Linked DNA regions of Homo sapiens. The protein of the gene in region 2 interacts with the protein of the main gene of each other region in a biochemical or structural test. Each region holds a gene or a part of one and is shown on either strand. Other genes may lie near its edges.

Evidence for each region.
Region 1: the proteins of SNAI1 (region 2) and USP37 form a complex in vitro, tested with the Homo sapiens proteins (2 studies listed by BioGRID, with this or other methods).
Region 3: the proteins of SNAI1 (region 2) and CTDSP1 form a complex in vitro, tested with the Homo sapiens proteins (2 studies listed by BioGRID, with this or other methods).

Annotation. Positions count from the first base shown.
Region 1 is NC_000002.12:218,449,734-218,453,478, forward strand, and holds the end of USP37 (ubiquitin carboxyl-terminal hydrolase 37), read right to left. Parts: 3' UTR 518-3,745; downstream 1-517. UniProt on the Homo sapiens protein: Deubiquitinase that plays a role in different processes including cell cycle regulation, DNA replication or DNA damage response.
Region 2 is NC_000020.11:49,981,118-49,984,862, reverse strand, and holds the start of SNAI1 (zinc finger protein SNAI1), read right to left. Parts: upstream 1,884-3,745; 5' UTR 1,804-1,883; coding exon 1,722-1,803; intron 1,040-1,721; coding exon 512-1,039; intron 1-511. UniProt on the Homo sapiens protein: Involved in induction of the epithelial to mesenchymal transition (EMT), formation and maintenance of embryonic mesoderm, growth arrest, survival and cell migration.
Region 3 is NC_000002.12:218,397,980-218,401,724, reverse strand, and holds the start of CTDSP1 (carboxy-terminal domain RNA polymerase II polypeptide A small phosphatase 1), read right to left. Parts: upstream 1,858-3,745; 5' UTR 1,635-1,857; coding exon 1,568-1,634; intron 1,323-1,567; exon of another isoform or gene 1,238-1,322; coding exon of another isoform or gene 772-1,237; intron 162-771; coding exon 13-161; intron 1-12. UniProt on the Homo sapiens protein: Preferentially catalyzes the dephosphorylation of 'Ser-5' within the tandem 7 residue repeats in the C-terminal domain (CTD) of the largest RNA polymerase II subunit POLR2A.

The DNA.
Region 1 (3,745 bases), on a different chromosome or scaffold from region 2:
ACATCTTCCCCAGAGTAACAGCTTTTCCTTTTCACATATACTTTCCTTACTGCCTTACTCAGTGGGTAAGTTAAAGGGCTGAAGGAGAGTTGAATGGTCCACAAGACTACCCTCTTAAGAGGTTTCACAAATTCCAAACAGTACCAGTGAGAGCAGCACTTCCACTGGGGCTAGGCTTGAGACCTAAAGGCAAGTATGAAATGCATATGCTACTTCACTCCCTCTCCCAACCCTTAATAATGAGGCAAAGCAAGAGCCTAGTGAAGGCCAATGCTAGGTTTACAAACTTACCCAGAAGCCTCTGCAAAGCTTCACAGGCTCCTCAGATGAAAATAACAGGAATCAATGGGGACTACGGCCAGACACTGGTTTGCCATTCTGTTCCTTTTAAGAAGTAACAGTGCTGCAAGGAAGTCCATGTCAGAAAGCCAACAGAAGGTGATTTCCACAACTTTGAACAGGTTGTTACAAGTATCAGCAAGAATGTGTCCTTTTCAGAAATAACAGTCAAATCAAAGAAGGTTAATAAAGGCTTTAATTTCATACACACAAAAAAACTCTATGCATAATTTAAAAAGGAAACAAAAACAAAGAAAAACCGTAAAGGATACAGAGGAACAGTTCTGCTAAAACACAGATAAAAGTGCCGCTCCATACAAAACATAAAGAATCAGAATCAAAAGTCACTCTGAACATAAAGAAAAAAAATCATCTCACAAATAATGTGGCCACAGCTGCCAGAAAACCTGGTAGTGGCTCAATTAGGCAAAGTGTAGGAATCTCATTTTTGTTTTTCTCTCCTTAAGTTTAAAGAAACAACAATGACAATAGGCCAGAGAAGTTAGGGAGGGAAAGAAAAGCTCAAAGGGAGGGAAACCTGGGGACAAGAGGTGTGCACACCCACATGTGGTCTCACTCTTCACACAGGCCCACTATTTTTGAAGTAGACCAGTTTAGTTGACTGTTCTTCTTTGTTCTGGCATCTGACTGGACCAACCTGGAACCTGGTCCAGACCCTCACCCACTCTATTCTTATGCCAATGGACATACCTATACTTTGAACCTCTGTACTTTTAAGAAAAGTCCAATGTTACAAAATCAAATGCTTATATTCAGACTGGCACACTTTTTAAATAAAAACTCCATACACCTCAGACATATAGCACACATGGAGACAACTTACTAATTGTGTGTAAGTATGATACAATGAATGAGACTGCCTGAAGTCTAGTAATCAAAGCATGCCATAAGGTGAATGATTGTGGTTAAACACAGCAAAATAATTGTCACAAAACTTTCAAGGCCTAACAAATTAGAATTTTCCAATAAAAAATATATATTTTTTCAGATGTTAATAAGACATATCAGTAGAGACAAAATTAGGATTTTGAAGTAATGCAATAAAAAGATGTTGGAGGGCAGAAGTCTATTTAGTTTTTGTATACACTTGCAAGAGTGCATTACTCAGTATAAAGCAAAATGGGGAGGAAAAAGACATCCATCCATTTTATTGGAACACTTTTATGTGACTTGAATCTGGTGTTAGGTTGTTGATTTTTCTAAAAATCTCCTATATATACAAAATCCATATGTACTTGGAGATCCAGCTGTTGCCCCCTGTTTAAAACAAAAGACCACCTCGGGGGGTCAATTAAATTAAAAAGGCCCTCCAACCACCCTAAATGGGATAACTAAGAGTATCTACTGCAGTCATTTCAGAGGACAGAGAAGGAAAATATTTTAATTTGCTTTAATATAACCTCTTTTCAGTAGATCACAAATGAGTTTACAAACTACTTTTTTTTCTCTTTAATTTAGGTGTTTGCAGATAATTTTCATTATATCCGTAGCTGTATGTGTGTATAGTTACATAATGGTAACTACACACGATACAGAAGAATCAGTAAATTCATGGATTATTTTGCTGAGGTTTTAAATTTTAAAGCCTCTGTTTCAGAATTTTATACTTGATCAAGGAGAAAAATAAATGTGTAGTCTAACATTTGCTTTCTGGAGTTAATTAACTGATCTGTAAGAACCACTGCATATGTCTTAAAATGTAAACATATTTACATTTGTTGTATTTGTTATTGAGCCTTTAAGGTTAGGCCCAGAATGAACAGACCATAGCAAGTAAACAAATAATTTTTAGAATCAAAGTATTAATAGAAGACCAGTTCATGGATTTGCTTATTCTATCCTGCTGAGACAAAACTCATGAGTGTGCACACACATGTGAATATATCCCTACGAAACAGTCTATCTTCTCATAGGCTTAAATTATAGTCATGGCTATTAAAGAAATTAACAGCATCCAGCCACATGCAACTTTCCAACCTTCAGTACTATTAGGTGATTAAAATCAACAAATATGAAGTTTAGTTCATTTTTCCCTTAAAATTCCAACAAAGATCAAAAGGTTGTATCTAGAACTAATTGCCATCAAGTTCCAATTCAATGTCATTTAAAGTAATGTAACCACACATTTGGTATTTTCAATAGGAAGGTTAATTAGGTATTGTGCAAACTGCCTGCAACGGAAGCACTCAGTCCTTATCTAACTTGTCCCTTCCTGGCCCCAACATGCTAACTGCCCCATCCCCAATTCTGGGCAAACTGATCACAATGTGCAAAAAATAATATATTATCTATTTATAATTTTAAAATATATACAGCCAGCTCAAAAACAACAACAAACCCCATCAACATAGTCCAGCTGAAATCTCCACTGGTAGTCAAAGAAGTAGATTAAAGGAGTAAAGGAAGGAGAAGGCTGATAGGGCCACAAGAATGGACAGACATCAAGTAAAATTTGAGTCCCAAACATGCAAGTACATGAGCAGTGAGATAACTTATATATTCCAATAACCTATTTTCAACAACTCCTGCCCAAGACATGAAGATCAAATCAGGTTTCTGAGGTAAGTGTACTTCTAAACCATACACACATGAAAGCTATGAAAGCAATTCAAATGAGGCTGCTTCATGAGGCAATCTAGACTTATGGCATTATTTCTACTTTTCTCCATGTTTTAATTGCAGCCTGCACTTTAAATCTTTCCCAATAATTTTTAACAGTGCCTCTCAAATGCAAAGACACGTAAAAGAATTAATAACTAGCCAAAGAATTTTATCACCGCTTCACTCATTTATAAGAAAACCAATTATTTCCAAGCAAAATCAAACCAAACCAAAGAGGCTCCTGGTAGAAATGAAACAAAACTTTAAAGCTAGTTTTAAAACAAATATTTTCCTCTGCTCTAAACTACTCTGGCGTTTTCTACCACTCTACCATTTTGGAACATTCATTACAATAAGGTATATAGGTAGATGGTAGGAGGCAAAGCATTTATCAGTAGTTGAGCAAAACTGCTGAGGCCATTTATAATTCAAAGAATGAAAACTTAGAATAGTTTACTACATTAGAATACATCCAAGTTCCAAGAGTAGGACTGGAGCTCTCTTAAGGCAATCTTTCAGAAAAGATGTTGCATCTTCTGTGATGATGGTTTGTGTTTTTTTTGTTTTTGTTTTCGTTTTTTTTAATGAGATGGAGTCTCACTCTGTCACTCAGACTGCAGTGCAATGATGCGATCTCAGCTCACTGCAACCTCTGCCTCCTGGGTTCAAGTGATTCTCTCATGTGATGGTGGGTTTTTAAATGTTTTTTCCTTCTGAAAACCTGATGTGGTTTTGTCCCTACCTCTGAGAACTAAAGAATAATCCCCTTGTTTATAATAAAAGA
Region 2 (3,745 bases):
ATGCATTCCTGCATTTAGCCTGTATAGAAACCCCAAAAGCTGTTCTCATGCCCATCTGAAAGATAGAGAAAATGAGGCTCACAGAAGAGAAACATCAGCCTAAGTTTTGAGAAAGTTCTCAAAGAAGGATTCAGAGCCAGGCGGGGGGTCTGACAACATCCTGTCTGGCTAGGGAGGGGGCGGACCCGGGAGAGGGTGTGGCCGGGTGGGCCCCTTCACACCTGGCCCCCACAGCAAGGTGTTGGTTGCACCTTTCCCATATCCAGCTCCGACCCATTTGGCTGAGAAACAGGCTGCAGGGGATTGGGAAGGTGTCTGCTTTGCCCATCTGCTTAGCTGATGAAGAAAGTTTCTGCCAAACGTTTCCAGAGAGCCAGGCCCTGGAACTTGAGCTAGAAGTTAGAAGACTCGGGGCCTCAGTGTCCACAGCTTTGGGAATGAGAACAGCAAGCCCAGATTCACAAAAGCTGCCAGAGAGAGCAACGGTGGGGGCGCCTGGAGGGGCACGTACCAGTGTGGGTCCGGACATGGCCTTGTAGCAGCCAGGGCCTAGAGAAGGCCTTCCCGCAGGTTCCGCAGACGCAGGGCAGCGTGTGGCTTCGGATGTGCATCTTGAGGGCACCCAGGCTGAGGTATTCCTTGTTGCAGTATTTGCAGTTGAAGGCCTTTCGAGCCTGGAGATCCTTGGCCTCAGAGAGCTGGGCCAGCTGCTTGGGCACTTGGCCCAAGCCTGGGAAGGCAGCATAGGCCTCGGCCTCCAAGGAAGAGACTGAAGTAGAGGAGAAGGACGAAGGAGCCGGTGAGGGTGGGCTGGGGGGCTGGGAGCCTTTCCCACTGTCCTCATCTGACAGGGAGGTCAGCTCTGCCACCCTGGGACTCTCCTGGAGCCGAAGGGAGGCCCAGGCAATTGGCTGGGCTTGGGGCGCCAGGACAGAGTCCCAGATGAGCATTGGCAGCGAGGCGGTGGGGTTGAGGATCTCCGGAGGTGGGATGGCTGCCAGCAGGTGGGCCTGGTCGTAGGGCTGCTGGAAGGTAAACTCTGAGGGAGAAAAAGCAGAGTCAGGCGTTAATTAAATCATTCACTCAATCAACAAACATGAGCCCACCGCTGGCCAGGGGCTGGGTGGGGCCGATTCTCAATACATAATTAGATCAAAAAAATTATCCACAGGACAGACCAGGTTCCTGCCCTCCTCGCCCAGGTCACCCAATCTGAGTCTCTCACACGTAGGACCCCCAGTTGAAGGAGGTCATTTCCTGATCTCCCTCTCCTAAGTCCCCAGTCTCCAGCCTGAGGCCAGAACCCCATCATCCCAGCCCCGGAGCCACCACCCTGCCCCAATCCCCCTCCTCACACACATCTCGTCTCCCCACCCCTCCCCTCAACCCTCTGGACTCCGGACTCTCCCCAGCAGCGTCCAGAGGGCCCTCCTGACACAGGCCTCCTCTCCTTCCCCTCTTGCGGAGCTCCTCCGCCTCTCGCCGGCTACAAAGGCCCCCCAAGCTGAAGACCCCTGCCCTCTACACGGCACTCCCCCAACCACCCAGACAGATCCCCGGAACTGGGGACCCACTTGCCCGGTCTCCCGAGCCCGCAATGGTCCACAAAACATCCTGTGACTCGATCCTGGCTCAGGCAGGCCGCCTCCCTCAGGTGCCCCCCACGCAGCCTTCGCCTGTCTCCCCCAAACCTCCTGGAGCCCAGAACCCCTCCAACGCACCTGGATTAGAGTCCTGCAGCTCGCTGTAGTTAGGCTTCCGATTGGGGTCGGAGGGCTTCCTGACGAGGAAAGAGCGCGGCATAGTGGTCGAGGCACTGGGGTCGCCGATTCGCGCAGCAGTAGCGCAGAAGAACCACTCGCTAGGCCGTGCCGCGGCGCAATGAATGCAGCAGCGCCGCCAACTCCCTTAAGTACTCCGGGGGGGTGGTGGGGGGTGGGAGGGGCGGGGCCTTATCTGCCACGCCCCTTTGTCACCTCCGCGCCAATCGGAGGCTCGTCTCCGCCGAAGGCCACTCCCCGAGCAGGTGCGCCGGCTGCTGGCCGGGCTCGCGCCGCGTGGCGGTGAGAGCCCGGGCGGGGACTCCTCCGAGGCGGGGTTCGCTGGCGCAGCGCGGGTCGTCCCCGGTGCTGGGGCTGTCCGGGGCGGGACGTCGAGCGAAGCGAGGCCTCTGCGAGGTGGGACCCCGGCAGGACGCCGCGCGCCCACCGGCTCAGCGCCCGGTGGTCTGAGCGCTTCTGACGCCCCCTGGCGCTGCGCGCCGGCCGGGACACCTGACCTTCCGACGCCCGCCCCCGCCTCGGGCTTGGGAGGGGGCGGAAATTTCCTCCGCCCGGCTGGCGCCTGGAGAGCGTGGCATTGACGAGGGAAACGCACATCACTGGGGAGGAAGCGAGGAAAGGGACACCGCACGTGGCTCTCGGCGGCTTGAAATGCCACGGCCTTTTTGCAAAGCAGCCTGGCCCAGCTAGCCAAGAGCACCCGTTCCTTCCCTTATCCAGTGTTTACGGAGCGCCCAGCACGTGTGGGGCACTGTACCTGGGGCCAGGGCACAGCCCCGGACAGAACACTCAGAGCCTCTCCCGAAGGGTAGCTTCTGGTCCAGTGAGGGAGACAGACGAAGTAAACAGATAATTACAATGCAAAGGGAAGTGTGCTTTGGTGGGGGAGAGACGGGACGCGGCGACCGTTAAGAGGCGGGTCACCTGACAGGGGGTCGGGGTGACTTCCCAGAGGAAGTGAAGAATTATCAAGGGAAAAGGCCCGAGGGAAGAAGTGGCAACTGCTTCAGAGTAACTCCTAGAGAGCAGCTTCCAGGGATGGGGTGGGATGGGCATGCCCGGAGGGGTCAGATGTGCTGGGCCCCAGGGCCTCGTAGGAGTTTGGACTTTGCCTCAAGGGCACTGGGGAGCCACCGAAGGATTTTCAGCTGAGGAGGGACCTGGTTAGAGTTTCGTTGAAAAAGATCCCTGTAGGCTGGCGGGAGAAAGAAGGCATGGGCCGGGCGTGTCTCCTCACCCCGTGAAGATCCTCGATCCTGTGTCTAAAGGCTGTAACACGGCTCCATAGGGGCCCTGACTGAATGCATGTGGGGTGGGCCCAAGTGAGGGGCAGCTGCACCCCCACCCCAGCTTCCCTGGGAGGCGTACCAGGCCCGGGGGTGGCTCTGAAATAAACCTCACAGGTCTCACCGTTCTTGTTTCCACCTGTGAAGGAAGACTATAAAAACCTATAAGCACCCCACACCACCACCACCACCAACCTGAAGGGCAGAACTACTGTCTGTTTAGTCACTTGGTGCCGGGTGTGACAGCCGTGAACAAAATCGTCCTCCCCTGGTTCTAGCTGGAGAGCGGGCAGTAGGGTGGGGGACAGAGGCAGTAAGCAGTCATTAAGCGGAATACTCCCCGTCCCGTGTCAATTTAGCTCCAATCAGGATCCTTTGCTTGAAGCCAAAGTGAGGCCAGATCACCCCCTCCTCTGCTCAAACCCTCCCATGCGCCTGTCTCAGAGTAAAAGCCAAAGTCCTCTCCTCAGCCAACTCGGCCCCGCTGCTCTGACCCCAGCTGACATTGGCTTGAGCCTCTCTCCCTCCCCCATGCACAAGGATCCCACCCCCAGCCTTCCTTCTGTTCCTCCAACATCCCAGACCTTTCCCACCTTGGCACCTGCTGCTCTTCCTCCTCTCCCCTACGTCTCTTGCTCCTAGATCTTCACGCTGGCTTCCTTTCATTCTTTGTTTCAG
Region 3 (3,745 bases), on a different chromosome or scaffold from region 2:
GCCCCCACGCACCTTAGGGATGGCGCCATTCTCCTCCACAAGCAGGGGCGCCCCGCTGTGAGCAGGCAGGGCCTCCCCATCATCCCGGCAGACACAGCAGAAGAGTGAGTGGAGGATGCCCCGGCTTCGGGGCTTCTGGGAAGCTGCTGACTTCTGGTCACCTGAAGTAGGGAGGCACAAGTTGGAGGCTCGGTGCACACTGGCCTGCAGAATCCTGCATGTGTGCCCAGGTGTGAACCCCTGAGCCAGGAGGATCTTGCCGTGGCCCCTTCATCCAGACACACGAAGGCAGCTCCTGACTTTCTCTGAAACGCCCCTGTCAGGGCTCCACAATCAACTGCAAGGCTCCTGCAGCTCCCAGACAAATAGGTCTAGCAGGTATTAAGGCGCCCACATAGGGAGTGCGTGGCCTGGAGAAGGAGGTCCTGGGGTGCTCTCTCCCTGCCTCTCACAGCCTCCATGACTGCTGCTGATCAGCCCCATTGCGGTGCCTCCTGACCCCACCTTACCTGAGCACCCCTGCTCAGGACAGCCAGGGCCTGGGACCCAGGGCAGTCCACCCCTGCCCTCCCTCCATCCTCTCCACCCCCGTGGGTACGAAGTCCTCACTGCGGCTGGGCCCAGAGGCAGGGGTGCAGTCCCGCGGCCTGGGGCCAGTGTCCAGTGGCCATCTGTTTGCCCTGCCCCGCCCAGACCTCCGACCTGGAGCCCAGCAGCCTGATTGACAGATACCCCTCCCACCCCACCCCCCTCCGGCCCCCTGCAACTAGCCTTTCCACCTTGCCCTCAGTTCCGGGGCAGCCAGACCCAGGCGAGGGTGGGCAGACCTGGGGGCAGCGTCCAGATCCTGAGGTCCACACGGGGAAAAGGAGAAGACAGACCCCCCCACCCCGGCCCAGCCACGCTGGGGGACGCAGCCTCGTCGGGGCGGCGAGGCTTTGCGGGGTGGTGCGTGCCCACTAGGCGCACGACTCTCCCCGCGGGCGCCAAGCGACTCTTGGAAGTGCCGGCCGTCCTCTCTGTGCCTCCGAGGGGGTCGGCGCCTCCACGCGTGACGCGAAGTTTGTGGGGAACGTAGCTGTGTGTTGGCGGGAGATCCCTCCAAGCCTCCCCAGCCTGCTGTCACCTCGGCGCCCCCTCCCAAGACCCTACCGGACCGCAGCCCGGGGGGGTGGGGGTGGGGGGTGGGGCGGAGTCTCAGCGGGTGGCCCATAGGCGCCCTCCTCAGCTCCCCCATCTCCCAGCCCCATTGGCGCCAATGGTGGGGGGGCGCCCATGCACCACGCAATGCCTGCCAGGAAACCCCCGAAGAGTTCCCTCTCTATTCCTGCCTCAGTTTCCTCACCTCGAGCGAACAGGAGCGCCCCAAAGGCGCCAGGCCCCGCCCCGCGTCTCTGAGCCTCCTCTGAGTTCAAACTCTCTCCCTGCTCCCTCTCGGGCTGGGAGCTTCGGGCACAGCTAAGGCGGCCGCCCGGGGCGGCGGCGGCGGCTCCCCTGGGGAAGATCCCGGCCCCTTCTCTCCTCCCACGGCGCCCCGGCTTCGGCCCCCTCCCCGCAGCCCCGGTACCTTTGCCCCGCAGCGGGCCCCGAGCCTCCTCCTTGCTGATCTGAGTAATGACGGCCGAGCTGTCCATGGGGCCGGGCGCGCTCCGCTCCGGCCGGACTCTGGCCCGGGCGCCCGGCCTCCCCCCCGGCTGGGGCCGGAATCGGGGCGCGGGGGGGAGGGGAGGGGTGGGAGGGAGGGATCCCCGCGAGCTCCGGAGGGGAGGGGAGCCAGGTTCTAGGGGGGAGGGGGAGGGAGGGGGCGCGGAGGAAACTTTGTTACAACATGGAGTTTCCTTCCCGCGAGGCGGATGCAAACATGGAACCCAGGCGCCGTTTCAAGGCTCCCCCTTAAAAGGGCAACGGCTTCGGCGTGACCTGGACTCGGCTGCGGCTTTCGCCACTTCTGGGACCGGCGCGGCTAGGCGGACTGGGAGGCGGGCCGGGCCGGGTTCCTGCCGCGCTCCAGGGGGCGTCGCCTCCCTTCCTGCCGCCCGCCGGCGGGGCTGAGTCTCTGCGGCTGCGTGGCAGGCCCGGCACCCGGCTCACCGTTCCAGGCCGCCGAGCGCCCTCGGCCAAGGCCCGCCCGCCGGGAGCGCCCACGCCGGGGAGTGCCCGAGTGCGGCGCGGCTCCACCTCTGCGTTTTCTGAAGACCCGGGACTAGAGGCTTCTCGGTTTCCTCGTTGAGGACTTGGAGATAGCACTACCTCATCTGTAAAATGGGTCTTCTCTCCTGTCTGGTGGTCGCAGAGATCACCTCGCAAGGACGTCAAGAGCCAGCGAAGGCTCTGCTGGCCCGAAACAGCTGTGCAAACCTCAGAATCACGCTCTTGAATGGGACGGTCGCCGCCCCCCGCAGCCCCAGGGCGAGGTGCCCCCGGTCTGTAGGACGTGAAATTCTAACTCTCTGCCCTGGGAAAGCCCCCTGCCGACCTCTCCCCACGGCCCCACCCGGGGCCCCGCACGTCTACCCGCCGCGCACGGGCCACCGCGCGTTCCCGCCTGAAGTTTTCGTACGCGCTGTTCCTTTCGCGTAGCCAAATTCCACCGACCTCGAGGAAATGCCACCTTCTCCAGGGGCCTTCCCAGACCCCCTCCCCTGCCCGCGGTCGACGGCCGCCCTGTGATTACTGGGGGTGCGGTGGGAGTCACTGGACTCGCTGCCGATCCTAGGAGCCCAGCACGGCGCCGCACGCGGTGGGCCCAAAGCCCGACCGTGGGGGACCTCAAACCAGAGGCCCTCAAGGCCCGTTCCACCCGGCCTGTGGCGCAGTGCTGGGCACTTGGGAACGGAGGTCCCTGTCTTCTCGCTGCAAGCCCCTCCGTGGTGCGCGCCGTGGGTCTGCGGGTTGGTCTTTTTCCTCGTTTATGAAGTTCTTTTCACTCGTCGTTACTATTTTGTAAGTTCACCATTTAAAAATTAATAATGCCAAGCCCGACAAACACCCCTCGGCACTTCCTCCCCTCCCCCTCTCCCGCGGGCCTCCGTGGCGGGGCGGGGCGGGCGCGTCCTGTCCCGTCCGGCCGCCGGGTGCGACGCGGCGCACGTCCGCCAGGCCCTGCCGAGGGGGAGCCGGGGAGGGGAGGCCCCGCGCGGGGGCCGGGAGGGGAAGGGAGGGGAGCGGCGTCTGCCAGAAGGCGCGGCGGCTTCGTGCGCTGAGGCTGGGAGTAGGGGCGGGAGGGGACTGTCGGGGACTGATACCCCGGTCCCCGGGCTGGATCCCTCGGCCCTCCTCCTGCTCCTGGGTAGCCCACGGGGCGGCCACCATTGCGCTTCATCACCGTGATCGCCACACGCTGCTGGCGTTTTCCTAGGCCTGCTCTGGCTGCGCCCCCTAATCTCATTTACCCCTTAGAACGGCCTCCTTCTTAACCCATTTCACAGATGAGGAAACTGAGTTTCAAGAAAGGAAGCGACGTGCTTCGGGTCTACCGGCAAGGGCAAAGGCGGGATTCCAGCCTGGGAGCGGGACATCTGTCTCCCCTGCGGTCCGGCCCCCTGGGTGGGGCCTCGGCTTTATCTCCGGATGCGGGGCCCTCATGACCCCAAAAGGAAGCGTGTGGCGAGGGACTGAGTGGAGTCGTGGCCTCGCCCTTGGCCTGGGTTGGGTGGCGCGCTTTCCTCTCCCTCTGTGAAGGGGGCTGGTACCTGGCCGGCTGTCCCCACACCCACCATTCCCAGACGCGCCATCCTGAGCTCAC